Linked DNA regions of Homo sapiens: region 2 is linked to region 1. The links come from fine-mapping of genetic effects on gene expression. A gene starts in region 1. The other region holds a variant in brackets. All regions are shown on one strand. Distances are between the middles of the regions. Region 1 holds the start of NUDT7 (nudix hydrolase 7). Region 2 overlaps LOC107984878 (a long non-coding RNA gene).

Region 1 (15,811 bases):
GATGTTATGCAATATATCCTCGTGATCTTTCCGCTAATATCAATCACAGTGGCTGTACACCGTGTGTACACCCTGTGATTTTATGCAAGACATCCTTGCCAACTTTTCGCTGATAACAATCAATCACAGTGGCTGTGCACCCTGTGTGTACACCCTGTGATGTTACGCAGAATATCCTAGAGATCTTTCTGCTAATATCAATCCATCACAGTGGCTGTACACCCTGTGTGTACACCCTGTGATGTTACTCATGCTATTCTCGCGATCTTTCCGCTAATAGCAGTCAATCACAGTGGCTGTACATTCTGTGTGTACACCCTGTGATGTTACGCAGGATACCCTCGCAATCTTTTTACTAATATCTATCAATCACAATGGCTGCACACCCTGTGTGTACACCCTGCGTGTATAATCTGTGATATTATGCATATTTATGCATAGTATCCTCACGATCTTTTTGCTAATGTCACAGTAAGTGTACACCTGCGATATTAACTATGGCATCCTGACAACCTTTCTGCTAATATCACAGTGGGTGTACACCCTGTGTGCACACGCTGCGATATTATTCATGACATCGTTGCGACCTTTCCGCTAATATCACAGTGGGTGTATGCCCTGGGTGCGCACCCTGCAATACTATGCATGATATCCTCCCGATCTTTCTGCTAATATCACAGGGGCTTTACACCATGTGATATTAGACATGATATTCTCGCGATCTTTCTGCTAATATCACAGTGACTGTTACACCCTGCGTTACACCATGTGATCTTATACATGATATCCTCCCGATCTTTCTGCTAATATCACAGTGGCTTTACACCATGTGATATTATACATGATATCCTCCCGATCTTTCTGCTAATATCACAGTGGCTTTATACCATGTGATATTATACATGATATCCTCCCGATCTTTCTGCTAATATCACAGTGGCTTTACACCATGTGATCTTATACATGATATCCTCCCGATCTTTCTGCTAATATCACAGTGGCTTTACACCATGTGATATTATACATGATATTCTCGCGATCTTTCTGCTAATATCACAGTGGCTTTACACCATGTGATATTATACATGATATTCTCGCGATCTTTCTGCTAATATCACAGTGGCTTTACACCATGTGATATTATACATGATATCCTCCCGATCTTTCTGCTAATATCACAGTGGCTTTACATCATGTGATATTATACATGATATTCTCGCGATCTTTCTGCTAATATCACAGTGGCTTTACACCATGTGATATTATACATGTGATATTATCATGTATAATATCATGTATAATATCATGTATAATATCATGTATAATATCCTCCCAATCTTTCTGCTAACATCACAGTGGCTGTACAGCCTGTGATATTATATACGTGATATCCTCGCGATCTTTCTGCTAATATCACAGGGAATGTACACCCTGTGTTCACATCCTGCGATATTATGCATGACATTTTCCCTACCTTTCTACTGATATCACAGTAGGTGTACACCCTGTTTGCACACCCTGCGATACTATTCATGACATCCTCGTGACCTTCCTGCTAATATCACAGTGAGTGTACACCCTATGTGCACACCTTGCGATGCTATGCATGACATTCTCGCGACCTTTCCGCTAACATCACAGTAGGTGTACACCCTGGATGCACACCTTGCGATACTATGCATGATATCCTCGCGATCTTTCTGCTACTATCACAGTGGGTGTTCACCCTATGATATTATGCATGATATCCTGGGGATCTTTCTGTTACTATCATAGCGGGTGTACACCCTGTGTGTATATTCTGTGATATTATGCATGATATTTTTGCTATCTTTCCGCTAATATCAGTCACAGTGGGTGTACATCCTGTGTTTACACCCTGTGGTCTTAAGCATGATATACTCCCTATCTTTCTGCTAGTATCACCGTGGGTTTACACCCTGTGTGGACACCCTGTGATATTATGCATGATATTCTCATGATCTTTCCGCTAATATCCATCACAGTGGGTGTACATTGATATTACGCGTGTACACTCTGTGATATTACACATGATATCCTCACGCTCTTTCTGCTAATATCACAGTGGGTGTACAGCCTGTGAGATTATGAATAATATCCTCGAGATATTTTTGCTACTTTCACAGTGGTTGTACACCCTTTGTGTACACCTTGTAAATTTATGCACAATATATTCGAGATACTTCTGCTACTGTCACAGTTGGTGTACACCCTGAGTGTACACCTTGTGAGATTATGCGTAATATCCTAGAGATATTTCTGCTACTGTCACAGTGGGTGTACACTCTGGGTGTACACCCTGTTATATTGTGCACAATATCCTTGAGACATTACTGCTTGTATCACATAGTGGGTGTACACCCTGTGATATTATGCCTAATATCTTGAGGGATTACTGTTAATATCACAGCGTGGGTACACCTTGTTTGTAATCCCCTCTGATATCATGCCTAATATCTTCTTCGAGAGATTACTGCTAATATTACAGGGGGTGTATCCCCCATGTGTACCTTTCCTGAGATATTATGCCTAACATCTTCTTAGAGAAATCCTACTAGTAGCACAGGGGTGGTACACCCTGTGTGTCCACCCTGTGATATTATGTTTAATATCTTCTTCAAGAGGTTACTCCCAATATCACAGTGGGCGTACTCACTGTGTGTACACCCTGTGATATTATTCATAATATTTTCGATATTACAGCTAATATTGCAGTGGATGTACACCTTGTGTGTAAACACTGTTAAAATATTCATAATATCTTTGATATTGCCACTAAAATCACAGTGGGTGTACACCCTGTGTGCATACTCCGTGATATTATTCATAATATTTTCGATATTACAGCTAATATCACAGTGGATGTACACCCTGAGTGTACACACTGTGAAAATATTCATAATATCTTCGATATTGCTGCTAATATCGCAGTGGGTGTACACTCTGTGTGTATACTCCGTGATATTATTCATAACATTTTCATATTACCACTAATATCACAGTAGGTGTACACCCTGTGATATTGTTCATAATATATTCAATATTACCACTAATATCAGAGTTCGTGTACACCCTGTGATATTATTCATTATACCTTCAATATCACCGCCACCATCACAGTGAGTGTACCCCCTGTGATAGTATTAATATATTCGACATTACTGCTAATATCACAATGGGTGTATACCCTGTGATGTTATTTATATCTTTTATATTACTGCTAATATCACAGTACTGCTATCACACTTGGTGTACATCCTGTGATGTTACTCCTAATATTTTAGATTTTACTGCTGATATCCCAATGGGTGTACACCCTGGTTGTACATCCACTGTGATATTATTTATAATATCTTTGATATAATGGCTAATATCACAGTGGGTGTACACCCTGTGATATTATTCATAATAACATGGAAGCCGTGTGTAAACATTGGATATTATAAATATCAGAGTGATATTTCATTAATATCACAGTGTGTAAACATTGTGTTAACACAGTATGTTATAAATATGAGAGCAATATTTCATTAATATCATGGTTTGTAATCACTGAGTGTAAATACTGGATATGATAAGTATTAGAGTGATATTTCATTAATATAACAGTGTGTAAACAGTGTGTGCAAACACTGATATTATAAATATCGGAGCAATATTTTATAAATATCACAGTGTGTAAACACTGGATATTTTAAATATGAGGGGGATATTTCATTACTATTACAGTGTGTAAACACTTGATGTTATAAATATCAGAGTCATATTTCATTATTATCAACGTGTTTAAACACTGTGTAAACACTGATATTACAAATATCAGAGTGACATTTCTTTAATATCACAGTGTGTAAACACTGAATAATATAAATATCAGAGCGATATTTCATTAATATCAATAGTGTGTAAACACTGAATATTATAAATATCACAGTGATATTTCATTAATATCATAGTGTGTAAACACTGTGTCTAAACACTGGATATGATAAATATTAGAGCAAGATGTCATTAATATCCCAGTGTGTAAACACTGTGTCTAAACACTGAATATTATAAATATCAGAGTGACATTTCATTAATATTTTAGTGTATAAGCACTGGATGTTATAATTATCAGAGCGATATTTCATAAACATCACAGTGTGTACACCACTGCCATTATAAATATCATGGCGATATTTTATTACTATCACAGTGTGTAAACACTGGATATTATAAATATCAGAGCCATATTTCATTACTATCACAGTGTGTGAATACTGAATATTATACATCTCAGAGCAATATTTCATTAATATCACAGTGTGTAAACACTGGATATTATAAATATCAGAGCCATATTTCATTAATATCACAGTGTGTAAACACCGGATATTATAAATATCAGAGTGATATTTCACTCACTGAATATTATAAACATCATCAGAGAGATATTTCATTAATATCACTGTGTGTAAACCCTGAATATTATAAATACCATCAGAGAAATATTTCATTAATATCACAGTGTGTAAACAGTGGATATTGTAAATATCATCACACTGATATTTCATATATATCACTGTGTGTAAACACTGGATATTACAAGTATCATCAGAGTGATATTTTGTTAATATCATAGTGTGTCAATATTGGATATTACAAGTATCATCAGAGCAATATTTCATGAATACTACAGTGTGTAAACACTGGATATTACAATTATTATCATCAGAGCGATATTTCATTAATATCACAGCGTGTAAACCCTGGATATTACATGTATCCTCATCAGAGCAATATTCATTAATATCACAGTTTGTAAACCCTGGATACAATAAATATCAGAGCGAAATTTCCCTAAAATCACAGTGTGTACATCGTGGATACTATAAATATCAGTGCAAAATTTCCCTAGTATCACAATGTGTAAATCCTGGATACTCTAAATATGAGACCGAAAATTCCCTGGTATCACAGTGTGTAAACCCTGGATTTTATAAATATCAGAGCTAAATTTCCCCAGTATCACAGTGTGTAAACCCTGGACACTATAAATATCAGAACAAAATTTTCCTAGTATCACAGTGTGTAAACCCTGGATACTATAAATATCAGAACAAAATTTTCCTTGTATCACAGTGTGTAAGCCCTGGATACTATAAATATCAGAGTCAAATTTTCCTAGTATCACAGTGTGTAAACACTTTGTGTAAACACTGGAAATTATATGTATCAGACTGATATTTCACTAGTGTCACAGTGTGTAAACCCTGTGTGTAAACTCTGGATATTATAAATATCAGAGCGATATTTCACTAATGTTACAGTGTGTAAACGCTGTATATTATAAATATCAGGGTGAAATTTCACTAATGTCTCAGTATGTAAATACTGGATATTAGTAATATCAGAGAGAAATTTTACTAATGTCGCAGTGTATAAACACTAGATATTACAAATATCAGAGCGAAATTTCCCTTGTATCACAGTGTGTAAAAAGTGGACACTATAAATATCAGACCGAAATTTCCCTAGTATTACTGTGTGTAAACACTGGATACTATAAGTATCAGAGCGGTATTTCACTAGTATCACAGCGTGTAAACACTTTGTGTAAACACTGGATATTATACATATCAGAATGATATTTCACCAGTATTACAGTGTGTAACCACTGGAGATGATAATTATCAGGGTGATATTTCACTAGTATCACAGTGTGTAACCACCGGATATTATAAATATTAGAGCGATATTTCTTTAATATCACAGCATGTAAGCCCTGTGTGTAAACACTGGATATTATAAATATCACAGCGATATTTCGCTGATATCACAGTGTGTAACCACTGGGTATTGTAAATATCACAGTGATGTTTCACCAATATCACAACGTGTTACTAGTGGATATTGGAAATATCACAGCGATGTTTTGCCAATATCACAGTGTGTAACCACTGGAAATTGTAAATATCACAGTGATATTTCGCCGATATCACAGTGTGTAACCAGTGTGTAATCACAGGATATTGTAAATATCAGAGCAATATTTTGCTGGTATCACAGTGTGTAAACTTGATACTGTAAATATCACAGCAATATTTCACTGATATTACAGTGTGTAAACACTGGATATTGTAAATATCACAGCGATATTTCACTGATATCACAGTGTATAAACTCTGGATGTTGTCAATATCACAGTGATATTTCACTAATATCAGAGTGTGTAAACACAGGATATCGTAAATATCACAGCAATATTTCAGTGATGTCACAGTGTGTAAGCACTGTGTGTAAACACTGGATATTATGAATATCACAGCGATATTTCATTAGTATCACGGTGTGTAAACACTGGATATTATAAATATAACACCGATATTTCCTTAATATCATGATGTGTAAACACTAGATATTATAAATATTGCATCGATATTTCATTAATATCATGGCGTGTAAACACTATGTGTGAACACTGGATATTAGAAATATCACAACATTTCATTAATATCACGGTGTGCAAACACTGTGTGTAAACAATGGATATTATGAAAATCACAGCGATATTTCATTAATGTCACAGTGTGTAAGCACTGTGTGCAAACACTGGATATTATGAATATCATAGCGATATTTTATTAATATCGCAGTGTGTAAGCACTGTGTGGAAACACTGGATATTATGAATATCACAGCGATATTTCGTTAATGTCACAGTGCGTAAGCACTGTGTGTAAATACTGGATATTATGAATATCACAGTGATATTTCATTAACGTAACAGCGTGTAAGCACTGTGTAAACACTGGATATTATGAGTGTCACAGTGATATTTCATTAATTTCACACGGGATATTATAAAAATCACAACGATATTTAACATCATAGTGTGTAAACACTTTGTGTAAACATCGGGTATTATAAATATCACAGCGATGTTTCATCGGTATCACAGTTTGTAAACCTTGGATATTATAAACATCACAGCGATATTTCATTTATATCACGATGTGTAAACACTGGATACTATAAATATCACAGCGATGTTTGCTTAATATCACGGTGTGTAAACACTGTATATTACAAATATCACAGCCATATTTTATTAATATCACGGTGTGTACACACTGGATATTATAAATATCATATTGATATTTCATTGAGGTCATGGTGTGTAAACACTGGATGTTGTAAATATCTGTGATATTTCATTGATGTTATGGTGCATCAACACTTGATATTACAAATATCACAGAGACATTTCATTGATATCACAGTGTGGAAACACTGGGTATTATAAATATCACAGCGATATTATATTAATATCACGGTGTGTAAACATTGTATATTACAAATATCAGCCATATTTTATTAATATCACAGTGTGTAAACACTGGATATTATAAATATCACATCGATATTTCATTGATGTCACGGTGTGTAAACACTGGATGTTGTAAATATCACAGCGATATTTCATTAATATTTCATTTCATTAATAATTTCACAAACTGCCCCACTGACCTAGGGCCAGCCACAATATTACTTTCATGGGCCCTAGCTACTTTGTTTTTGTGCACCCCTTCTTCCATAAAATAATTTTAAAGTGAATATTTTATGACTGAATTCATAAAATGACTATCATCCAAGCTGGATTCATTATTATATATTGCTTTTATTACATACCTTTTCTTCTTCTAATTTAAAAAGAAATTACAATTAAAACATTTTCACAGGTCCCTAAAATTACTGTGTGTGTCCTGTGCCTGTAAGGGAGAAGTCAGCCCTACACTGACCCCTGGATTCTCAGCTCGCACCAGGCTCCCTCACACACACTGTTCTCCAGCCCCTTTCTGCTGTCTTTGCACAAACTTTGCCCTCTTCCTTGAACACTCTCCCTTGCCTTTTTCCTCATTTATGTCCTCTATCCCGCACAGAGCATCAGAATCCCCTTACAGCACAGATCACTGGGCCTGACACCTGGCTTCTGATTCAGCAGTTGTGACATGGGCCCCAAAGTCCACCTTTTCTTTTCTTTTCTTTTCTTTTCGTCTTTTTTCTTTTCTTTTCTTTTCTCTTTTCTTTCTTTCCTTTCTTTCTTTCTTGGTTTTTGTTGTTGTTGTTGTTGTTGTTTTGTTTTGTTTTGTTTTTGAGACAGAGTTTCGCTTTTTTTTGCCCAGGCTGGAGTGCAATGGCGCGATCTCGGCCCACTGCAAACTCCGCCTCCCAGGTTCAAGCGATTCTCCTGCCTCAGCCTCCTAGTAGCTGAGATTACAGGCGCCTGCCACTGGCTAATTTTTGTTTTTTTAGTAGAGATGGGGTTTCACCATGTTGGCCAAGCTGGTCTCAAACTCCTGACCTTAGGTGATCCACCCGACTTGGCCTCCCAAAGTGCTGGGATTACAGGTGTGAGCCACAGCGCCTGGCCCAGAGTCCACATTTTTAACAGGACCAAAGTGATCCTGATTCTGCTGGTCTGAGGACCACACTTTGAGAACTACTGCTTTCAAGATGAGCTGCACTTCTATTTCCTCTACCAAGCCTCTTCTGTCTCCTAATTGGGTCACATTTCTCCTTCACACGCTCTAGAAGGACCAAAGGCCACTGCTTTATCAGTGTGATTTTTTTTTTTTTTTTTTTTTGCATTAAAAACTTCTTATCTTCTTCTTCTTATTTTTGAGACGGTCTACCTCTGTCAGGCTGGAGTGCAGTGGTGCTATCACGGCTCACTGCAGCTTCGACCTCCTGGGCTCAAGCGATCCTCCCACCTCAGCCTCTTGAGTAGCTGGGACCACAGGTGTGTGCCACCACGCCTGGCTAATTTTTTATTTTTATTTTGTAGAGATGGGGTTTCGCCATGTTGCCCAGGCTGGGCTCGAACTCCTGGATTCAAGTGATCCTCCCCTCTTGGCCTCCCAAAGTGTTGGAATTACAAGCATATGCCACTGCATCCAGCCCTGTGTGATTAATTTATGTTTCTACCATTTGACTGTGAGCTCCACGTGTCTTTTCGCTAGCTGTGGGATCTGCACCCAGTGCATACAGGTGGTCGGTGAACAGGTGCTGACAGCAGTTCCAAAAAGTTGAATGAATCACCTTAACCTTCCAGCAACAGCGAATGCGAGTGTAAAATATTATCACCTCACCAACACTGTATTTTTTTTTTTTTTAACTCTTCCAGCTCTAAATTCCACAACTCCTCCTATACCTCTTGCTTCCATAGAAGCCCAAGGAGCCCGGCAGAAACTGCTTTGAGCAACCAGGAACACCCGGCCCTAAGTCCCGCCCCGCGCCTCTCCCCACCTCAAGTCCCGCCTCTGGCTATAAGCCCCGCCCCGCCCCGATCCCGGCCTCCGATCCCAGATCTCGCACCGCCCCGCCCCCTGTCTCCGCCCCAGACACCACCCCGCCTCGTGCTCTAAGCCCCGCCCCTCTCTCTGGCTTTAGGCCGCTCCCAAGCCCAGAGCTGCTCTGCGCAAGCGCGACCGACCGAGCAGCTCCGAGGAGTCCGCCCGGAAACAAACATTCCCCAGGGCAATGTCACGACTTGGTCTTCCCGAGGAGCCAGTCAGGTAAAGGCTTTCCGGGCCCTGGCACCCCGAGCTTGGTCAGGCCCGGCCTTGATCGTAGCGGAGGCCACCGGGGCCTTTTGGCCGGGACTGATTTTGCAGCTCCCGCCAGTCCACCTGCGAGCGCCGGATGGGGGAGCACTCGCCTCCAGCAACCCGCAGGGTCCCCGAACCTTTGCACTGCTCTGGCCAGGAACAGAGCCGGCTTAAGCCAGTATGGTTTACATACACGCTGCTCCCCTTCCCAGCCGGCTTGGCTGTTCTGCAATCCGCGTCTCCAGAGTTGGACCCCAGGACCCCCGACAGTGGCACAGACCCGCAGCAGGCAGCCCCGGATTCAAGTCCCCCGGTGGCTACTTTCAGTTGTGACCTTGGGTCTGTCAGTTTCGTAAACTCTCTGAGCCTGGAGGTGACCCTGTGATCACTTGCCGGGCTGTTGTGAGGATAAAATGAGAAACGTCAAAATTGAGACCATGCTCAGAACGGGGTGGCTGCTACTGCTGTTGATACCTTGGTGATTATTCCAGCGGCCAGCCCCTAAAGTGGACAGATAACGTTTTTGCAGCCTTTTACTTTGGCTGGTTTGTCTGGTCAGTTCTGTGGTTTCCGGGTGGTTAAAAGCCACCAGCCCACAGTTTCCTTTTCTGGAGGCTGGCCTGCGTGCATCCAGATGCACTGTGCAATCCCTGTGCCAGCATTCACTGATTTTTTTCAGGCCATTTGGTCTTTGAAATACACTGCCGTTACCCAACCACATCTGGTGAGCACCCTGCCACCTAGAAAGAGGCAAAAAATAGCAAATACCTCCTGCAAACAACTGCTTATCTAATGATGGGGAGATTTATGACAGTGGTTACCATTCCCTGAGCACCAGCTGTGTGCCAGCCACAGTATATGAACTGCATCATTTAATCTTCTTAAATATCCTCAAGCCTGACACAAATGAAGATGAAACTCAGAGAAGTCATTTGTATACACTTTTTTTTTTTTTTTTTTGAGACAGAGTCTCACTCTGCCGCCCTGGCTACAGTGCAGTAGGCAATCTCGGCTCACTGCAGCCTCTGCCTCCTGGGTTCAAGCGATTCTCCTGCCTCAACCTTCTGAGTAGCTGGGATTACAGGCATGTGCCACGATGCCCGGCTAATTTTTGTATGTTTAGTAGAGGTGGGGTTTTACCATGTTGGCCAGGCTGGTCTCGAACTCCTGACTTCAAGTGATTCACCTTCCTCAGTCTCCCAAAGTGCCGGGATTACAGGCATGAGCCACTGTACCAGGCCTCCTATATACATTTGAAGCCAATTCTGGGTATCTTAAATAGCTGATTCTGCCCACTATGCAAAGCTGCCTTCCCACAGAAAAAGTAAAATCAGCTGTTCCTTTTCTAGGGCTGCCATAACAGAGTACCACACACTGGGTGTTTTAAAACAATAGAAATGGTCTCTCATGGCTATGAAGCCTGGAAGTCCAAAATCAAGGTATCGGCAGGGCCTCACTCCCTTAGAAGGCTCTGGGGGTGACCTTTCCTTGCCTCTTCCAGTTTCTGGTGGTTTCTGGCATTCCTTGGCTCACAGCAGCATCACTTCAACCTCTGCCGCCATCTTCACATGGTCTTCTTCCCTGTGTGCATCTCTCCATGTTTTTTCTTCTTTTATTTTATTTTATTTTTGAGTCAGGTCTCACTCTGTCACCCAGGCCGGAGTGCAGTGGTGCAATCATGGCTCACTGCAGCCTTGAACTCTGGGGCTCAAGTGATCCTCCCACTTCCGCCTTCCAAGTAGCTGGGAATACAGTTGCATGCCCCATGCCTAAGCTAATTTATGCTTTTTTTTTTTTTCTTTTGTAGAGACAGGGTCTTACCATGTTGACCAGGCTGGTTTCAAACTCCTGGGCCCAAGCAATTCTCCCGCCTCAACCTCCCAGTGTTGGGATTACAGGCGTGAGCCGCTGCACTGGGCTCGTTTCTGCTTCTTATCAGGACAACAGTCATTGGATTTAGAGCTCACTTTAATTACATCTGAAAAGATCCTATTTCTGAATAAAGTCACACTCTGAAGTTTGGGGTAGACATGAATTTCAGGGGTGAGGGGATACTGTTCAACCCACTATACAAACTAGCAGTAGAACACACCTGTCAAAAGGACCAAAACAAGTCCACATAGGAAGGGCACCATTTGCGGTTTTAAATCCAAATGCTTGCATATTATTGGGAAATTGTTCTCAGAATGTGTTCCCCTGTCCACAGCGTCAGTAACGCTGTCATGAGGGAGTTTGATACAAATGCTAATTCTCAGGCCCTACACCAGAGTTACTGAGTCACAGTCTGGGACTGAACCTCGCAGTCTATGTGACAGCCAGCGCTCCAGGTGATTCTGTTGCTGCTAAAGCTTGGGAACCACTATTATAAGCAGTTGAAGACATAAGAGTTTGAGAACATAAGGGCCAGCTTAACAGAAGGTAGTCTTCTAACCTTCTAACCTTAACAATGACTTTTTCATCAAACCTGTCTTCTCTGAATATAATTATGGGTTTCAAAATTCAACTGTTGCATTATTGAAAAAACATTTTACCATACTTTATGTTTCAAAGAGAACCTGTGTACTAAACTGTGTGCTTAGAAGGTTTTTTTGTCATTTTCATCTTGCGAACAACCACGCAATTTAGATAGTATCATTTCTGTCGTGTTATTGAAAAATACACAGAGAGTCAGAAATGGCAAACTCCTAAATACACAACAAAGCAGAAACAGAGGCAGGACTATAAGCTTTTTACCATAACTCTGCTTGCTAAAATGTCTGTCTGGTTTGTTTTTATTTTAGAAACAGTTTGCTAGATGATGCTAAGGCCCGCTTAAGAAAGTATGATATTGGAGGCAAATATTCTCACTTGCCATATAACAAATACTCCGTCCTTTTGCCATTGGTGGCTAAAGAAGGAAAACTCCATTTGTTGTTCACCGTCCGGTCAGAGAAGGTAGGTGGACAAAAAATTTCCTGCCCTTAAACCTCAGGACATCAGAAGACCTCACGAGATTTTGTCACTTGCACACACTTTGATGCCAAAATTCTCAAAAGGGCTTTCAAAATTGTGATGTCAGAGGCATACAACCACAAGCCACAGGATAACATGGTGTTTCTTGGAGAAGGTTTAACAAGAAAATGAAGGAATTTAGCTAGCAAGCAGTTTAAAACGCTTTCACACTAGGGTTACCTAACCTTGGTGCTATTGGCATTTGGGGCTGAATAATTCTTTGGTGTGGAGGCTGTCCTGTATAATGTGGTGTGTTTACCATCATCCTTGGCCTCTACCCACCAGATGCCAGTAGCACACACAAACACAAGCTCACACACACCTTTGTCCCTTTGTCCAGTATGCCAGTAGCACACACACCACAAATGTCTTCAGAATTGCCTACTATCCTGGCAGGATTGGGGGTGCCAAATTGCCCCCCACCAAGGGCCACTGTTTTAGACTATCCCACCCCCAGTATAATGTGAAAATACTAGAGCATAGAAGTTAACGGCCTAGGCTCTAAAGCTAGCTGTCCACGTTGAATCCAGGCTCTCTCCTTGCCAGCTGTGACTTTGGCCTCGTTACTTGCCCTCTCTGTACTTCAGTCTTTTCACTTGTAAAATGAGGACAAAATATTAGTAACTGCTTCATACAGCTGCTATGAACATTTCACAGGGTAACAAATGTAAAGCACCTATATAACCCAGGTACTTGGCAAGGAAGAATTCAGTAAGTTTTAGCTGTCATCGTTAGTGTCAAGTGACCTGTCAGACATGACCTGAAGTTTTAAGATAAATGATGTCACTTTACAGAAATAATGGGCTGGGAATGGAGTTTCTGGCTCACCCCTTGTATTGGTCCATTCTTGCATTGCTATAACGAAATACCTGAGGCTGGGTATGGTGGCTCAAGCATGTAATCCCAGCACTTTGAGAGGCCAAGGTGGGAGGATCACGAGGTCAGCAGTTCGAGACAAGCCTGACCAACATAGTGAAACCCCATCTCTACTAAAAATACAAAAGAATTAGCCAGGCATGGTGGCACACACCTGTAATCCCAGCTACTCAGGAGGCTGAGGCAGGAGAAACACTTGAAACCAGGAGGCGGAGGTTGCAGTGAGCCGAGATTGTGCCACTGCGCTCCAGCCTGAGGAACAGCGAGACTCCATCTCAAAAAAAGAAAGAAAGAAAGAAAAAGAAATATCTGAGTCTGGGTAATTTATAAAGAAAAGAGGTTTCATTGAGTCATGGTTCTGCAGGCTGTACAGGAAGCATGACACAGGCATCTGCTCAGTTTCTGGAAAGGCCTCAGGGAGTGTACCATCATGGCAGAGGGGGAGCAGGAGCAAGAGAGAGAGCAGGGAAATACCACACACTTTTAAATGGCCCCGGATCTCATGAGAACTCACTCACTATCATGGGGACAGTGCCAAGATGATGGTGCTAAACCATGCGTGAGAAATCTGCCCCTGTGATCCAGTCACCTCCAACCAGACCCCACCTCCAACACTGGGGACTCCAGTTCAACATGAGATTTGGGCAAGGACAAATATCGAAACTCTACCACCCCCACACCCGTGAGCACAGTCAGTTTCCCTTGCTGTGGGGAACTTCCAAGGAAAAGCTGGTGAAGCAGTCATTTTAAGCTTATCCAAGTACAAAAAGAAAATAAGCCATATTAACAGGCTTTTTAAGCAGAATAATGAAAAGTATTTTGTTTAAAAAAAAAATGCCAAGGAATCAGCTGGAGTTTTGTGGACGTGGAAGTAGACTTGTGTGGATTGTGTTCGGTCTGAGCCAGGCAGAAATGCCGTGAACTCAGGACATGATAGAAATCCAGGTTCCAGGGGGAAATACTTAAATGGAAACCAGGGGACCAGTGTCTGTTCCCACCTCTGCCAATAAGCACAGGAGAAGCACTTACATATATTTTTTAAAATTATCAGATATGGCCGTGTGCGGTGGCTCACGCCTGTAATCCCAGCACTTTGGGAGGCTGAGGTGGGCGGATCACCTGAGGTCAGGAGTTCGAGACCAGTCTGGCCAACATGGCGAAACCCTGTCTCTACTAAAAATACAAAAAATTAGCCAGGCGTGGTGGTGGGTGCCTGTAATCCCAGCTACTGGGGAGGCTGAGGCAGGGAGAATCACTTGAACCTGGGAGGTGGAGGTTGCATTGAGCCGAGATCGTGCCACTGCACTCCAGCCTGGGCAACAGAGCAAGACTCCATCTCAATAATGAATAAATAAATAAAAATAAATAAATAAATAAAAGAGAATTGTCTAACAAACAATAATATAGGAAATCTAGACAATACTACAAACTCAACCAACGGGGTCTCTAGTTTCTTTTGTTTCACCCAGAGCCACTTTTGCCTGTTGATTATTAAGGTCACTTTTTAAAAACTATTTAAATTTAATTCAATCTGATTGTAAACACTATCTGGCTGTAGGGGTGAGAAATTCCCTCTGGAGCTCTACTGGAGCTCTGCCCCTCACACAAGCAGGGCGCTGGTAGGAGATTTCCCCCCAGTGGATGGGGAAAGCAAGGCAAGAAGTGGGTTAACCCTTCTCAAATGTGCAATCTCCCACTAGCTCTGGAACCTCGAACAAGTTTTTCTTTTTTTTCAGAAGGATTCTCGCTCTGTCGCCCAGGCTGGAGTGCAGTGGCGTGATCTCAGCTCACTGCAACCTCCGCCTCTTGGGTTCAAGCAATTCTCCCACCTCAGCCTCCCAATTAGCTGGGATTACAGGTGCACGCCACCACGCCTGGCTAATTTTTGTATTTTTAGTAGAGAGGGAGTTTCACCATGTTGGTTGGCCAGGCTGATCTTGACCTCCTGATCTCAGGTGATCTGCCCATCTTGGCCTCCCAAAGTGCTGAGATGACAAGCGTGTGCCACCACGCCCAGCCTGCAAAGTTCGTAAATCTCTTAATCACCTCGGTTTTCTCATCCCTAAAATGGGCCTGAAAACAGCGCCTCATGTGCAAGGTTGTTCTGAGCCTGAAAGAGATCTGTAAAACGCCCAGCACGGCTGCTGGCATGCCATAGTGCTGCATGCTGTTGGATGCTACCTATGTTTTCGTTATCTCCTTGTCCGGGTCCACCTTGGATAAGGGACTCCTCTCAGAACCCTAGATCCCTGGTGCCCAGCAAAGAGCTGGCAAACCCCTTTCTCCATTGCACACCTGGGCACAGCCCTTCAGGCCTTCAAAGCCACCCA
Region 2 (15,811 bases), 30 kb after region 1:
TCGGCTCACCGCAACCTTCACCTCCAGGGTTCAAGCGATTCTCCTGCCTCAGCCTCCCAAGTAGCTGGGATTACAGGTGCCCACCACCACGCCCAGCTAATTTTTTTGTATTTTTAGTAGAGATGGGGTTTCACTATGTTGGTCAGGCTGATCTCAAACTCTTGACCTCAGGTAATCTACCCATTTCGGCCTCCCAAAGTGCTGGGATTACAGGCATGAGCCACCGAGCCTGGCCAATCTGACACCTTACATGTGGCTTCTGGGGAACACATAGGATGCCCTCCCTGGGTGGGAGGTGGGGTTCAGCAATCATCCAAAACAGCTGAAATTGAGGAATATAAGAGGCTTATATGCCTACCAATTGGGAGGGATAATGATGTATGTTTCGAGATGATGACGGCAGCAAAATAGTGATTTAAAGCATAAGCCCCAAATCAAAAGACGAAAAGACAGACATTCTGTAATGCACCCTTGAGATCTTCTACTTCTTATGTGGGTATCTGCCTATATCATGCTTTAGAGTTAGCATGGATTTTTTTGTTTAATTATATTCATCATCCTTCATGAGGCCAGAGAGGCAAGTGAGTCAAGCAACCTAACCACAATTCTGTGATGGCGATTTCACATCTTATTGTTGTTATTAGCTTTTTAGAGAGCCAAACCATGTTTAATAAGACTTTGTTATAGTTGAAAATGTGATGCCCACACCAAACCTATCAATCAGCCATGTGACTGTCCATTGCGGCTGAGTTTTTCTTTTCTGAGAGTTGGCAAAGGCAAATACCTGATTGGCTGCTTTATACCCATATATGTTTAAATGGCAGAGATCTGGTTCCAACCATGAAAGCAGATGTTGGGTACGTTACCCCATTAACATTCTGTAACCAGCCCTGCATGAACAGGCCTGAACTATTTCCGAACAATTACAGAAGCATTTGCAAATGTGTATTTACAATCTGACAGCAGTATAATTGCCGGGTAGATGGTTGACCTCTCCGACAGTGCAGAAAGCCTCCCTTCCAAACTGTTTGTTTATGTGAACTCTCCCAGATCTGCCTGGTCCAGCTGAAGTCAATCTGAGCACACCCATGGCCACACAATTTATGGGGCTGGATGCTTAGCAAAGGAGGTATTGCCCCCTTCCTTCTTAGTGGTGTATTTTATAGTATCTATGTTCAGAGTCTTAGTTAAATATATCTGGCTCAAATAAAATAAGTTATTGGCAAGGTACGGATCTCAGGGACTCTCTGAAGCCACTGAATAAATCAGCTTCAAGAAGGACAGCGGGGCGCAGTGGCTCATGCCTGTAATCCCACCATTCGGGGAGGCTGAGGCGGGTGGATCACTTGAAGTCAGGAGCTCAAGACCAGCCTGGCCAGAATGGTGAAATCCATCTCTACCAAAAATACAAAATTAGCCAGGTGTGGTGGTGCACACCTGTAATCCCAGCTATTTGGGAGGCTGAGGCAGAATTGCTTGAACCTGGGAGGCAGAGGTTGCAGTGAGCCGAGATTGTGCCACTGTACTCCAGTCTACTCGACAGAGTGAGACTGTGTCAAAGAAAAAAAAAAAGGCAGTAAGGAACAAACACAGCTAACTACCTCAAAGCCAGAAGGATGTGAACCTTTTCTTTTGTATCCTGTCATTATTGCTACAAGAAACATCTTGAATTGATTGACACCGACATAGAAAAACAACAGACACTCAGTGCCTCAGTCCCCAATTCTATCTGGCCTAACATGGGTCACCTGGAAGGTTTCCAGGAACCCAAAAATATGTTCAAAGGCAAGGGCTAAGTGGGGACTAGATGGACATCCCAAAACATCTAATCTCTCCAGTCCCTAGATTTTATAAATGCTCTAGATTCTGCCATTCAGACAGCTCAACTCTGTCTTCTTTGCAACCCTGCAATCTTGGTAAAGAAGTGGTTAAGATGGCCAGGTGCGGTGGCTCACACCTGTAATCCCAGCACTTTGGGAGGCCTAAGCCAGTGGATCACGAGGTCAAGAGATGGAGACCATCCTAGCCAACATGGTGAAATCCCATCTCTACTAAAAATACAAAATCTAGCCAGGCATGGTGGCACGCACCTGTGGTCCCAGCTACTTGGGAGGCTGAGGCAGGAGAAATACTTGAACCCGGGAGGCAGAGGTTGCAGTAAGCCAAGATCACACCACTGCACTCCAGCCTGGTGATAGAGCGAGACACCGTCTCAAAATAAATAAATAAGTATAAATAAAAAATGTTTAAAAAGCGGTTAAGAGTGCTGAGTCTGGATGCCTAGCTTTGAACCTCAGCTCCAGTGTCAGCCTATTCTGTGACCTTGGGCAAGTTATTCCTTCTCTGTAGATCGCAGTTTCCTCTTCTGTAATGTAGGAGAAATAAATTCTGTTTTAGGGCTGTCAGGGATTAAATGAGTTAACACATGTGACCTCTTTACTTAAAGCATACCAAAGTGCTCAGAACAGTGCCTGGGAAATAAGTGCCCAGTTACCAGTTGGCTACTAATTATGGTACTATTATAACTGTAACATTATATCATAACAATAACAATAATCATTGTTATTTCTCTAGTTCAGAGTTAGACTAACATTTATCTATTATGTACCCAGTCTTTCATTTTATTTCATTGACCCTCACATCAACTCTTTGTAGTGAGTACATGCTATTATTACTCCTATTTTTAGATAGGAGACCTTGAAGATCAGAGATGCTAGTTTTTTCCTCATTGTCACACAGTTCATAAATGGCAAAGCCAACATCCAAACCCACATGCCTGAGTTTCATAGCCCATACTCTTTCTGCTATAACCACATACTTGAAGATGAGGCAAGAATAGAAGGTTAAATTTACGTCTCCCTTGAGTCACCACATATGAAAGGGAAAACAATTCCAAGTTAATAAACTAGAGAGAGTACAGCATTTATTTTTTCCTTCATCATGTCCTCCAGCTTATTCAGCTGGTGCTGCACACAGTGAAATGAGTAATTAGCCAGGATGATTTTGATTAAAATGGAACATACCAATTAATAAATGAAAGTGCTGGCATACTTGCTAATTTAACAACTTGTTCATGGTGCCAGCTTTCCAGTTAAAGGACTGAGAAGGGAAAACGTTCCTCCACCTCTTAGACAGGATGATTAGATATTATTCAACTGTTCATTCTTGTTAACAGTTGCTTTCGTATTTGAGAATAGCATGAAGTTTTGTTAAAATTGCTAGAGTGATCATCTCCCAGTCCAGTTGTCTCAGATGTGACATACTTGGTGTGGTTCCTAATGGGACCTGTGTGTATACCCAATTAAGATTTTTTTAAATTATTTATTTATTTATTTATTTATTTGAGATGGAGCTTGCTCTGTTGCCCAGGCTGCAGTGCAGTGGCTTGATGCTGGGACACTCCAACTTCCACCTCCTGGGTTCAAGCAATTCTCCTGTCTCAGCCTCCTGAGTAGCTGGGATTACAGGTGCGTGCCATGATGCCTGGCTAATTTTTGTATTTTTAGTAGAGACGGGGTTGCATCATGCTGGCCAGGCTGGCCTCAAACTCCTGACCTCAAGTGATCCTACCATCTCGGCCTCCCAAAGTACTGGGATTACAGGAGTGAGCCACTGCACCCGGCCTGTTAAGAATTTTTCATTGCCCTCCCATCCCCACTCAGCCACCTCCCTGGGCCACGCCACATTGAACACAACTCAGAATTTATGAGCCAATTTCTCCATGCACACTTCTTCAACTACCCCTTACTTTATGTTAATAGCATGGACACCACTTCATTGCATTCCTTTGCATATCTGTATAATACATGTGTATCTCTGTGTTTATTCCAGACCTAACCCTGGAAGGGACAGATCCATGCACCATAAGACCCCTCACTCTGAGTTCCCCTATCCTCAAATGAATGGACCAAGGATCAATGGCAAACCCATAGGTGGCCCCTAATTCAGTGGCTTATGACTTGTATGATCTACTTAAATACCGGATCTAAAGTCCATTCGATTTTCAAAAAACTTTGAGCAATGCCAGAAGGTAACATATGCTTGGGAAATATTTTGGCCCATGTACATACTGATGAGTGAGCCCAAGAAGTCAGAGTTTAAAGTTAGTTGGCCAATAATGGTAGAAATATGTCTTTGCTCTAAGCAGTAGTTGTCGTGTCAGGGATTTCATCAGATACAACTGGAAGAAGAATATTTCCTGAAGCAATTTATCCTTCTTAAAGATCTCATACTCAAGCCCATAAATTTTAATTTTATAGGTGTAGACTTGGTTTAATATTTCCTCAACTATAACTTTCCTCAATTTTCATTTTAAATCTTCAAGCCCTTACTCTCTACTTCATCATGGATGTCAATGACATCTCTGTGTCAATTTTTTTCTCTTTTTCACTTATCATTTATGTGAAACTTGAAGTTTTCCTTCCGATTATTTTCTTCTCCTCACTTTCTTCACGTGTTTCTTCACTCTAGTCTCATTTCATCTTCTTCCATCAGCCTTCAGTTTCAGCTATATTTCACGGATCCCAAACAGCATTCTGAAAATTTGCCTACGTTATTTTTTCTGACTATAAATCTGTATGGTCTAATATCAGGCTAAATGATAAACTGAAGATAGTGGGAACATTTTGCTAGAACTCTCAACCTGTTACAAACATATATTAACCCATCTTAGCCCCCTGTAGTGAATTGAATAGTGGTCCCGAAAAGATATGTCCAAATCCTAACTCCAATGCCTGTGAATGTGAGCTTATTTGGAAATAAGATCTTTGCAGAGGTAGTTAAGTTAAAGACCTTGAAATGAGATCATCCTAGATTTACGGTAATCCCTAAATCCAATGACTGGTGTCTTTATAAATAAAAAAAGAGGGAAATTTGAGACACACAGTTGCAAGAGACACAGGGAAGAAGCCATGTGAAGACAGAGGCAGAGATTAGAGTTATGTTGCCGCGAGCCAAGGAACACCAGGAGCCACCGGAAGCTGGAAGAGGAAAGGAAGGGTCCTCCCCACAGCCTTTGGAGGGAGGGTGATGCTGCCAACGCCTTGATTTCAGATTTCTGGCCTTCAGAACCGTGAGATAACAAATTTCGGTTGTTTTAAGCTACCAAGTTTGTGGCAAATTGTTAGGACAGCCCTAGGAAACTACACAGCCCCCTTCTGAAACATCTCTTCATTTTGAGAAATAGCTCTGCCCTCTGTCTTGGGATTACCATGGAAACAGGACATTGCTGACCTCCCAGCATAAACTCAGTTAATCAGATTTAGTCCCTCAGTAATTCCCTTGGGATTAGTACCAAGCAACAGCAGAGTCTGTCTGCCTGCCCTCCGGAAGAGAGCATATGTGGGTGTTTGTGTTCCACCATTTGCCCTGGGAAGCAGAGAAAGCTTGTCTGCAACAAGAGAGGAGAACAAAGTCAATGACCAGAATGGAAGAGCAATGAAAGTCAGTCGTGTGTTGTGAAGGCATTAGAATCCCTGGATGTTTGTTCTTGAGACCCGGATGTTTCCATGGTTTCCATGAAATGCTCCCACCCTTCGTAGTTAAATTCCCTAACGTGCTTGAGCAAGCTTAGAAAGAGTTCTATAACTTTCACTGGAAAATGTCCTAACATATCACAAACACACGTCTTTATATCCTTCTCTTTTCTCTTTTCTCACACCCTTTTACACTATGGGGACCTTAGGTTCTATTCTTTCTTAACTTAGAATGGACCTATCCACATGTAGAGTCTTCTGGAAGTGCAATATGGTATGGTAGGAAAGACTGAAGACAGAAAACCCAGTCTCCTCTCATCACTAGCTATATGACCCATTGGACAGATTAAGCCCATATGCTAATTGCAAGAAAAATTAGGAAAATAGGCATCTGACATTTTCTCCTCCACTGTGAGAGGCAGACCCGGCTAACAAGGAAGAGGATGATGGGAAACTCATTGTCTGCCACATCATGTTTATTATATTTTATTTTATAAATAGAAACAAGGTCCTGCTATGTTGCAAAGGCTGGTCTCAAACTCCTGGCTCCAAGCAATCCTCCCACCTGAGCCTTCCAAAGTGCTAGTATTACAAGCATAAGCCGCCATGCCTGGCCTGCCTGCCACATATAGAAGTAAAACTGCTCTGACAGTTAAGTATGTGAGGGGGACAGATTACTGCTTGCTTGGCTCTTCTCACCTCTCCCCCACCACAGTTGCCCCCATGACTCCTCTATAGACTGCCTTTAGGTTCTATAAGGAACAAAGAGGGACAATGGAGACCCAAGTCAACTCACTGATGTCTTTGATAACATATGTGTCCTTTGCACCTCTTCTTTGTTGGTCCAGTAAACAGAAGCTAAAGCAAATGTATCAAAGTCTGAATCAACATTCCTGGAGAAGCCTTTGGGTCTGGGCTAGCCCATGAGATAACTGTGAAGCTGTCACAAGACACCCCTGGCTACAGAGCACCTGTAATGTGGCTAGTCCAAATTGAGATGCTGTAGGAGTCAAATACACACTGGATTTCAAAGACTTACTATTGGCTACATGGTGAAATGATAATGTTTTAGAGATGTTGGGTTAAATATAGGGTGAAAATTAATTTATCCTGTTTCTTAGTACTTTTTTGAATGTGGCTACTAGAAAATTTAAATTTACATACATGGCTTACAGTATATTTCTACTGGACAGAGTGGCTCTAGATGACTCATGTGTGGCCAGGACACTAGGACACTGGAGAAGTAATGATCACCCCATGTACAGATACAGTCTGTGTCCTACCCACATCCTTAGGACCCTACCATTGCAGTGAGCTCCAGATCACTTCCAACAGCCAACATTTGCATCTGTGTTCCTGCAGGCTTTTTCCAAAGCCACAGCAGGCCAGCTGGAAGTGACAGGGAATTAATGTCCCCTACATTAACCCTCAACCAATGACTGATGGGATTTTGCATATCAGTAGCTCAGGTTCTTTGCCCCTTGGGTGGGATAATTCTGAGACAGGTGTTCTGTACTTGCTCCCAAACTGAACTAAACTCTGGGTGCCCGCTGTGGTGGCAAGTTTCACACTTCTTTTCATTGGCTGCCTTCCCTTCTTTGTCTCATTTCTCCACTCCCATAACAATGTGCCCTGTAGATTCCAAATAAATAACTTGAATCTTGTCTTTAGGTTTCTAGGTAAACCAAATTAAGACACTCCTATATCTAATCCGTCGCCAAATCGTACTGAATTTATCTTCTGAATATCTATCAAATCTAGTTCTTCTCATCTCTACCGACATCAACTTAGTTAAAGCTGTCATAAACGTCTGAAAACTTTTGCATCTATCTGGTAACTATTACCCTGCACCATCTCTCTTCTATAGCCAGAGTTATTTTTCAATATAAATATCATCATATTTTCTTGAGGCACTCAAATGGCTTCCCATTGTTTTTTATGAAAAAGATGGATGGCTCTTACAAGGCCGTGTCCTGGCTCCTGTCTACCTATCTGGTTATGTGTAGTACCATGAGCCCCCTCCCTGCTCATCCACTCCTACAGCACTGGCCTGTAGAGGCTCAGTTTCAGTCCATGGGTGCCTCAGAACTCTTGCACAAGCTGATCCCTCAATCATTTCCCTTTGCCTGGTTACCTCATACTTATTGTTGAAGGATGCCTTCTCTGACACCTTAGCTAGGTTAGTTCTCCTTGTTATAAGCTCTCTTGGTGCCATGTACCTCTACTTCATAACTCCTGTCATAGTTACAATATGATATCCCCTTGATTCTTTGATTGATGTCCCCTCATTCTCTGGACTTCAACTTCCATAATGGCACAGTCATGTCTCAATTTTGGTCCATACACAAGAGTACTCTTAGCACTTGGCACAACACTGGGTAAAGAGTAGGTGCTCAATGGATATTTGTTAAATAAAAGAGTACAACTAAATGAGAAGTAGCTATTTCTACTCAAATAGCTAATTCAGTGGGCTAAGGAAAATTCAGTCTCTTCCCAACAGACTGCTTGACAAAGGTCAACCTAAGGTGGTCTAGCATTGTTGTAAATCACCCCCTCCTGCATTTACTGTATAAGGTATATAAAGTGCTCTACCAGAGTGGACATGAGTGAGTGGCTCCTATCTTTAACCAGTTTTTGCCTTGTAACTTAGTTATTTCCATACCTAGCTGTCTTGATGTACTATGAACTACCAGAGGAGCAGACTTAGCTCTTCTTTACCCTTCTAGCCTCAATGCTAGCCATATATTTAGGACCCATGCCCCTTCATATCTACAAAAACTTGCCTTAAATCCCCATTGTAATTCCAGTGGAAAGCTCGATATTCTCCCCAAGATTTATTCAAATCCTTCAGAGAGTACCTTTCTTCTAATCACCTTAGGTTCAATTTCCAGCTTCAGTGAATGTTAGTTCTGTATTCTGCATCTTGAGGTCTTTTTCCTTAGTGCCAACCCAAATCCAGGACAGAGACTGCTTCTCCTTGTTTTTCCTAAAGTAACTTGTATGTAAATCATTGAGTGGCTTTAATTGGAGACACAGGGATATCAGCCAGGTAAACTTTGATTGCAACATAAGAGAGCCAAACTTAAATTTGAATATTATGTTTTTCTTGTTCTTTAAAAGTCCTGTCCATTCTACCAAGTTGGGTATCAGGCTGATGCTGTATTCCTCCACATGCTTGTTCTTCCTTTTTGCTTTTCTCTTTGCTCCCACCACCAAAATGACATTCATTTCCTTTTCAGAGGATGGTGTCTATTTGGCTCCATGCATCTCATGCCCACTAGGACCCACCTTCCACATTCAATAAGCTCAGCAGTGAATTTTCCTAAATAAGAAGAGTTTATTTGTGGTACATTGGTTTCAATTACACTTTTTTCTCACTCCACTGGATATTTTTTAATGAAATGACAAGGGTCAAATGAGGACAGCCTTCTAGCAAAAGCCATGGGCACTGAATTGAAAAAAACATGCTGTGCAAAACACATTTGGTGGGTGAATTCATTGATCCAGTAACGAGCTTGATGAGCCTGAGCCTGAGTTGCAGTGAGGGGGGTGAATGATAAGATCAGGAGTGGGACTTGGAGGAATAAGCTGCATTTAGGAAATGAGCAGAAGAAAGGTAGAGCTAAGGCCATGAGGGCCAGAAGAGACGACTGGGGAGCAAAGGACGTAGGTGAGGGAGGAGGAAATGAAGAATTTATACTGAAGGAACAACAAGGATGACTTTTAGGAGGAGGGTGGTGAATGGAAGAACCCTGAGACAAAGGAAGACATCACCAGCCAGGGGAGGTAGGCATTGCCCCTAGTACTGTCCATAAATATGCTCTGTAACCTTGCAGACAGAAATCACAATCTTGCTGAACCTCAGGTTCCTTACGTATAAAGCGGATTGGAACTAGTTAATCTCTAATTCCTTTTCCTTTTGAAATCTCCAATTCTGGGTTTTCCCCAGCCTCATTTAAGCATATCCAGGTAATGAAGCCATTCTGCTTAATGTTTTACAAAGGAAAAATCTGACTGAGGAAAAGAAAAGGATCACTTTTTGTCTACTGTTCGAAGCTAGCAGCATGCATAGAGTTTATTATGTGAAAATGCCATTTGGGGAGGTTAATTAAAAATTCTGACATTCAGATCAGGGATTTGGGTCAGGAATGTACAAGTCCAGGGCTCTGGGTAGAATTAGACAGGCATCTAAACGTTGAACCTTATTAAGTATATAGTTAGGCCTTAGGAGGGGGACATTTGGAAGCTAATATTCCAAACCCAAGCCTAGTTGGCTTTGTGCATTTTGTTTGAATTATGACATATTTAATAGGATTTACCTGCAGAGCCTGTGCTTAACAATCTGTTTCCTTGGCAATGCAATCCTCAAACGGGCAAAGGCCATATGGAAAACATGGGTTATTTGGTAATTTAATAAGTGAGATGAGAGGAATAGTATTTAATTCAACGTACATATTTTTATCCCCTCTATGTTCAATAAGAAAAAAAGAGATCAGCATTAAGTACATAGCATGTACTTAATAAGTGGAAAGTACAATTATTATTATCAGAAACAATTTTTGTACTATGCTTTATATTATAATAGGTGCCCAAACATGTTATGCTATTTGTCCAAAAACACTCACCAGACAAAATAA[T/A]TCTTCTTAGTAGTCCCAGAGGCGTTATGCTTCAGTTTGTTTTTCTCCCTCTTTGCTCCCTGCACTTCATCAGCAAGTTTGTTCATTCTGCTTCTGATTCACACCCTAAATGCATCCTGTCCCCCTTTCCACCTGTAGCACCTGGTCCCAGACTCATCATCCCCCTCAACCCCTTACCTCCCCTGCACCTATTCTTGCTCCTTATATGCCCTTCTTCACCCAACATCCAGAGTGATCTTTTGAAGTCATGAATAAAGTCATGCCGTTTCTTGGCCTAAAACCTTCTAGTGTCGTCCAACTGTGACTGACTTTATTTTTTTCTTTCTTTATTTTTCATTTCTGGTAGAGACAAGGTCTTGCTATGTTGCCCAGGCTGCCCTCAAATGATCCTCTCTCATCTGGCTCCCAAAGTGCTGGGATTGCAGGCGTGGGTTAGTGCGCTTACCCACCTGTGCCTGTAATAAAGTTCAACCTTTGTCTTTGGTTGACAAAACTGGCACATTGTGGACTCCGCCTACTTCTGACCCTTCTTGATCTTGGCCACTGAACTTCCTTCAGCTTGTGCTTCTTTCTCCTGTTGGAAACGCTATGCTTGCCCCCACCATAGTGCTCTTGCACTAGATGCCCCTCTCCCAGCAATTGTCTTCACCCTGGTTTTTGCATGGATGGCACTTGTTTTATCATCAGTTCTCACTACACCTGTCGTTTCCTGGAAGAGTCTAACGCTGATGTCATTCTCTCTCATGCACCCATATTTTACTTCCATATCTGGTATTTTTTGGGTACATACTTGGTTTTTTTTCCTATCTCTCACACTAGAACACAAGCTCTGTGAGTGTGGGGACTTTCAATTATATTTTATTTTCCATTAGGAATTCAATAAATAAGTACTGAGTGGATGAATGAATTAATTTGGCTGAAAACTAGATGGTCAAGGTCATTTTATTGCCAAGAAGTAGGTCAATACAAGAATGAAATCACAGTAATGATTAGGTAAAAATAAAATTCCCAAGCACTGCTACTTTAATTTGTATTATTTTTTAATACTGATGATTTGTTTCATCATGGGCTAATTTTAGTACTATTCATGCATATTTAATTATGTTTTAGAATTATTCATTTTTTTCTATTTTAAAGATTGTCTAATTTATTCTCAGCTAATTAGTCCAGCTTTATATTTGTATACATTAGGAAAAATTGAAGGCAACCTAGACACCAAACAAGTTGTAAATGGTTTAAATAAATTATGGTAAATTATAGAAAGATATATATGATTTCATTTTTGTCAGTTTTATCCATACTTCTCTATTTGTAAGGATATTCATAGAGGTGTTAAAAATTGTCTTCTCAGGGAGGAGGTTGGGATTATAATTATCACTTACATTCTTTGTTTTTTGGTAGTTTTTATTTTTGGGGGGCTTTTTTCCTAATTTTTCTACAATGTGTACACACTGCTTTAATAATCCATAAAAGTAATTTTAAAAACAAAGTTTTGAAAGGATATAAAATATAAGGACTTGGAATGTCTGAGTATGAGGAGTTTTTTTTTTTAACTTAAAAACACAAAATCCCCTCAAAACAAAAAACCTAATCCCTAAATTAAAAAAGATAGAAAGCAAAAATTCAAATTCTGAAACTAGAATTTTCAGGGACTGAATTCACCTAAGGTGATCAGAGGGAGGCCATCGTTGGCACATCTTTGGAGTACATCAGTTTAGCTGCCCAGGCCACACTTTAGTAGAATATTCATGGCTGCGAGACCATCTTCCTTCCCTTTCGTTCTCCCTCCAAGTCCATTGCTTGCGTGCGCCATAACATCACCCCTCTAACCCCAGTTTACTATATTCACACCTGCAGTAAAAAATGGCCACATATAAAACACTCTGAGAAGTTTGAGAAAGTTTTCTAAATGTAAGGAAGATATGTGAGGCTGTGGCTGCTCCCTCTCTTGGGTATCTATTTTCTTTAACCGATTCACATGGGGGCTGAGCCATGTACCAGGAAGAACATTGCAACTTGCCAGCATTGGAGTCCAGCCATGCGCAGGCATGTTGGAGCTTTGTAGGGTATCCCGCTATAAACAAGATGCCAGAAGCACAAGTCCCCTTGGGTAAAATCAACCTGAAAGGAATAAAGCCTGGGATAACAAGCTGAGTCTGGGCAGAAGAACCTGAGACTGAAAGGGAAATCATTATATAAGATAGACTGCGGTGGCTGGTATTTCTTGTACTGCTTTAGCAGTTCCTATGTGCAGCCTCAGGGGAGAAAACAGAGATCTTCATACAGATAAACGTAGGAAGCCTCTGTAGGGCTCTGAGGTTCTAAACACGTGCTTGTATTAAACAATTTTGATGTATCTCCCCAGACCATCCCCTATGACTTGCTTATCAAGACAGGAAAAAAATCGTTCATCATTGTGCAAAATTTCAAGTCCACTAAACGATCACAAGCATCCTGACCTGAAAATATGGATTTAAATTACAGAAAAATATGAGAAATTATTTGGGAAAATATTATAAATAAGAAATAGTCTGAGCCATCATATTCAGAAGACATGTGTCTCTCATTCTGCAGATTTTCAGTACAACACTAAGAGTGCGTCGTTTCATGGGACTTGTCGATTTTGAAAACCTTCATTCTCTGCCCACATTGAGTAGGCAACTATTTCTCCATGGCTTCCTCTTCCACACCCACTTCTACTAGAAACAGTTGGGTCTAAAAGGACCCAAAGAACAAATGAAATGGACGATTACATATATTCATAGAGTTCTGTCACTTGGCTTCTTGTTTACTTGTCCTTATAATCCTATGTGCCAGACTAGAATGGCAAGCTCTGTTGTACAGTGAAAGATTTGGTGAATTTCAATGCTTGCCCAAGAACACAAGGCTACTTAAGTGAGGATTGCTATTACAGAACCTATATTCCAGCCCCACTAATGTTACATTTCCCATGAAAGACCAAAAGAAGAGAAATCAGATGTGTTAAGGGCTTGGTGGTAGCTGTGTTTTTCATCTATACAGCATGTTTTCATATTGCCTTTGGCTATTGATCATCAGTGAATTTCCAAGTTATGTGTGTGGATAACATGATTTGTTAAGCATGTCTGAACTGGATCTCTGTCTCTTGCAACCAAAGGAACCCCAATATCAAATACATTTACAGCAGTGGAGAAATATAATGCAATTTATCCATTGTGCCCTGAGATTTCCAGGCCATACTAAGTTCAGAAGACCCCTATGAGTGACATTTATTTAAAAAAAAAAAAAAAGGCCGGGCGCGTGGCTCATGCCTGTAATCCCAGCACTTTGGGAGGCCGAGGCGGGTGGATCACAAGGTCAGGAGATCCAGACAATCCTGGCTAACACGGCGAAACCCTGTCTCTACTAAAAATACAAAAAATTAGCCAGGCGTGGTGGCAGGCACCGGTAGTCCCAGCTACTCGGGAGGCTGAGACAGGAGAATGGCGTGAACCCTGGAGTCAGAGCTTGCAGTGAGCCGAGATTGCACCATTGCACTCCAGAGCCTGGGCAACAGAGCAAGACTCCTCAAAAAAAAAAAAAAGAAAAGAAAAGAAAAGAAAACAACAACAACAACAAAACTAAGCAGATGATAGAATAGAAATCGACTGCTGAAGAATTCTATCATTCCCTATCACTACTTGAGGCAATCCGACAAAATTCATTAATTTTAGCTTCCAGTTAATAATAACACATCAGGAGAGAAGCTCACTAATGAACTTTTTCATTTGGAACATGAGGCGATCGATGTTTGTAGGGCATGTAGCACTCTTAAATTGACACTTATATTCAGCTAGTAGTGGGAAAATAAAGTTGTGTTTCTTGGACTAAACTCATCAGATAAATTCTCTTGGCTGTAAGTATTTAGACCTCAGGGTTAGCTAAAACTAAGCAATCAGATTATCTTGAGATACTCACATTTTTCAGATAATTGTTCCCATATAAAATTTCCCTCGTCCTCCTCTGCAGTTGATCTTGGATGAGCTAATGAGAAATGAACCATGCAATATGTTATTAATTTATTGGGTTATCCTCCATTACCCTAAAGTTGATCAATAAAAATTAAATCATTAAGGGGCCAAAGTATTTTTAGAAACAATACCCAAAACACCTGGATTATAGAATTCTGTTCACAAGTTTAAAGTCCAAAGGAAAGAATGCATCCCACCCCTACCAGCACTTCCATAAAAACAATCCTCCAGCTGGGCGCGGTGGCTCACGCCTGTAATCCCAGCACTTTGGGTGGCCAATGCGGGCAGATCACAAGGTCAGGAGATCGAGACCATCCTGGCTAACATGGTGAAACCCCATCTCTACTAAAAATACAAAAAATTAGCCGGGCGTGGTGGCAGGTGCCTGTAGTCCCAGCTACCCGGGAGGCTGAGGCAGGAGAATGGCAAGAACCCAGGAGTTGGAGGTTGCAGTGACCCGAGACCGCACCACTGCACTCCAGCCTGGGCAACAGAGCGAGACTGTGTCTCAAAAAAAAAAAAAAAAAAAAAAAGATTAAAACTTGCTACCCAAAGTTTACTTTTCCTTTCTCCTCCTAACCTCTGATGATCTTCAATAATTTAGAAAAAATGCAAAGATTTCTCTTTATCTTCTATGCCATAAAACTATAACCCAAACAATACCAAGAAAAAGCTTGCTAATATAGGGCTTGTTCATTCAGAAGCTGCAGGAACTCTGTGGCAAACTCGTATGTCAGGTCACTTTGTTCCATCTGGGACCATAAGTCCACTAACTCATAAAGAACAATAGCAGACACTGTGATTCTAAGAGAATTGGTCACTTTCATCACAGCATAGAATGACCGAAGCCTTGTGTAGATTCGTTCCATTCCTCACCGCCACTCAGCATCAGTGTAACCATTCTCAGGCAGCAGAAGAAGAGACCTGCCAAGGCTGCATAGCTGGCGATGGATAAAGGATGTGGCTCCCTTTGTGGCTGATGTTTGGCTCTTGATACCATTGCTGTCCCTCTGTAGTTATAGATCTGTATCTAGTCTCTGGATCTAGATCTAGTCCTGGATTTGGAGCTAGTCTCTGGATCTGAATCTAGTCCTAGTTCTGGATCTAGTCTCTGGATCTGGATCTAGTCTTGCTTCTAGATCTAGTCCTGGCTCTGGATCTAGTCCTGGTTCTGGATCTAGTCTCTGGATCTAGATCTAGTCCTGGATTTCGATCTAGTCCTGGTTCTCAGTCTAGTCCTGGTTCTGAATCTAGTGCTGGATCTGGACCTAGTCCTGGTTCTGGATCTAGTCCTGGTCTGGATCTAGTCTCTGGATCCAAATCTAGTCTCTGGATCTGGATCTAGTCCCCATTCTGGATCTAGTCCCCGTTCTGGATCCAGTCCTGGATTTGGATCTAGTCCTGGCATTGGATCTAGTCTCTGGTTTTGGATCTAGTCCTGGATCTGGAACTAGTCTTAATTTCTCCTCCTATTTTTGCCTTTTCCTTGCTCCTTGGATTTGCTGACTGCCCTTAGCTTCTCTGATCTGACCCTGTGGGGTCTCTTACAGGGCTGATTCATACTCATGCACCTTCCTCTACATCCTCTCTACCACCAACAGGGAGGCAAGGCCCTTCCTTCTCCACCCTCTCAGCCCTCTTGTCTGCGCAGGGCTCACTCTGCCTTCTGAGCGTTTGGGCTGTCACTTTCCCTAAGAAGATGCCCTGATAA

What was found.
Region 2: its variant is fine-mapped to the expression of NUDT7 in prefrontal cortex (BrainSeq, PIP 0.95).

Annotation. Positions count from the first base shown.
Region 1 is chr16:77,713,037-77,728,847 of GRCh38, forward strand. It overlaps NUDT7 (nudix hydrolase 7), which reads left to right and starts at 9,478. Exons shown (of 4, transcript NM_001105663.3): 1 at 9,478-9,581; 2 at 12,395-12,548. The coding sequence starts at 9,547. RefSeq lists an enhancer at 9,316-9,610 and a silencer at 9,324-9,453.
Region 2 is chr16:77,743,340-77,759,150 of GRCh38, forward strand. LOC107984878 (a long non-coding RNA gene) reads right to left here. Exons shown (of 6, transcript XR_002957866.2): 5 at 14,048-14,113. Among named protein-coding and RNA genes, the nearest start is that of NUDT7, 29 kb to the left of the region's middle. The variant T/A (reference allele first, on the strand shown) is at 10,112.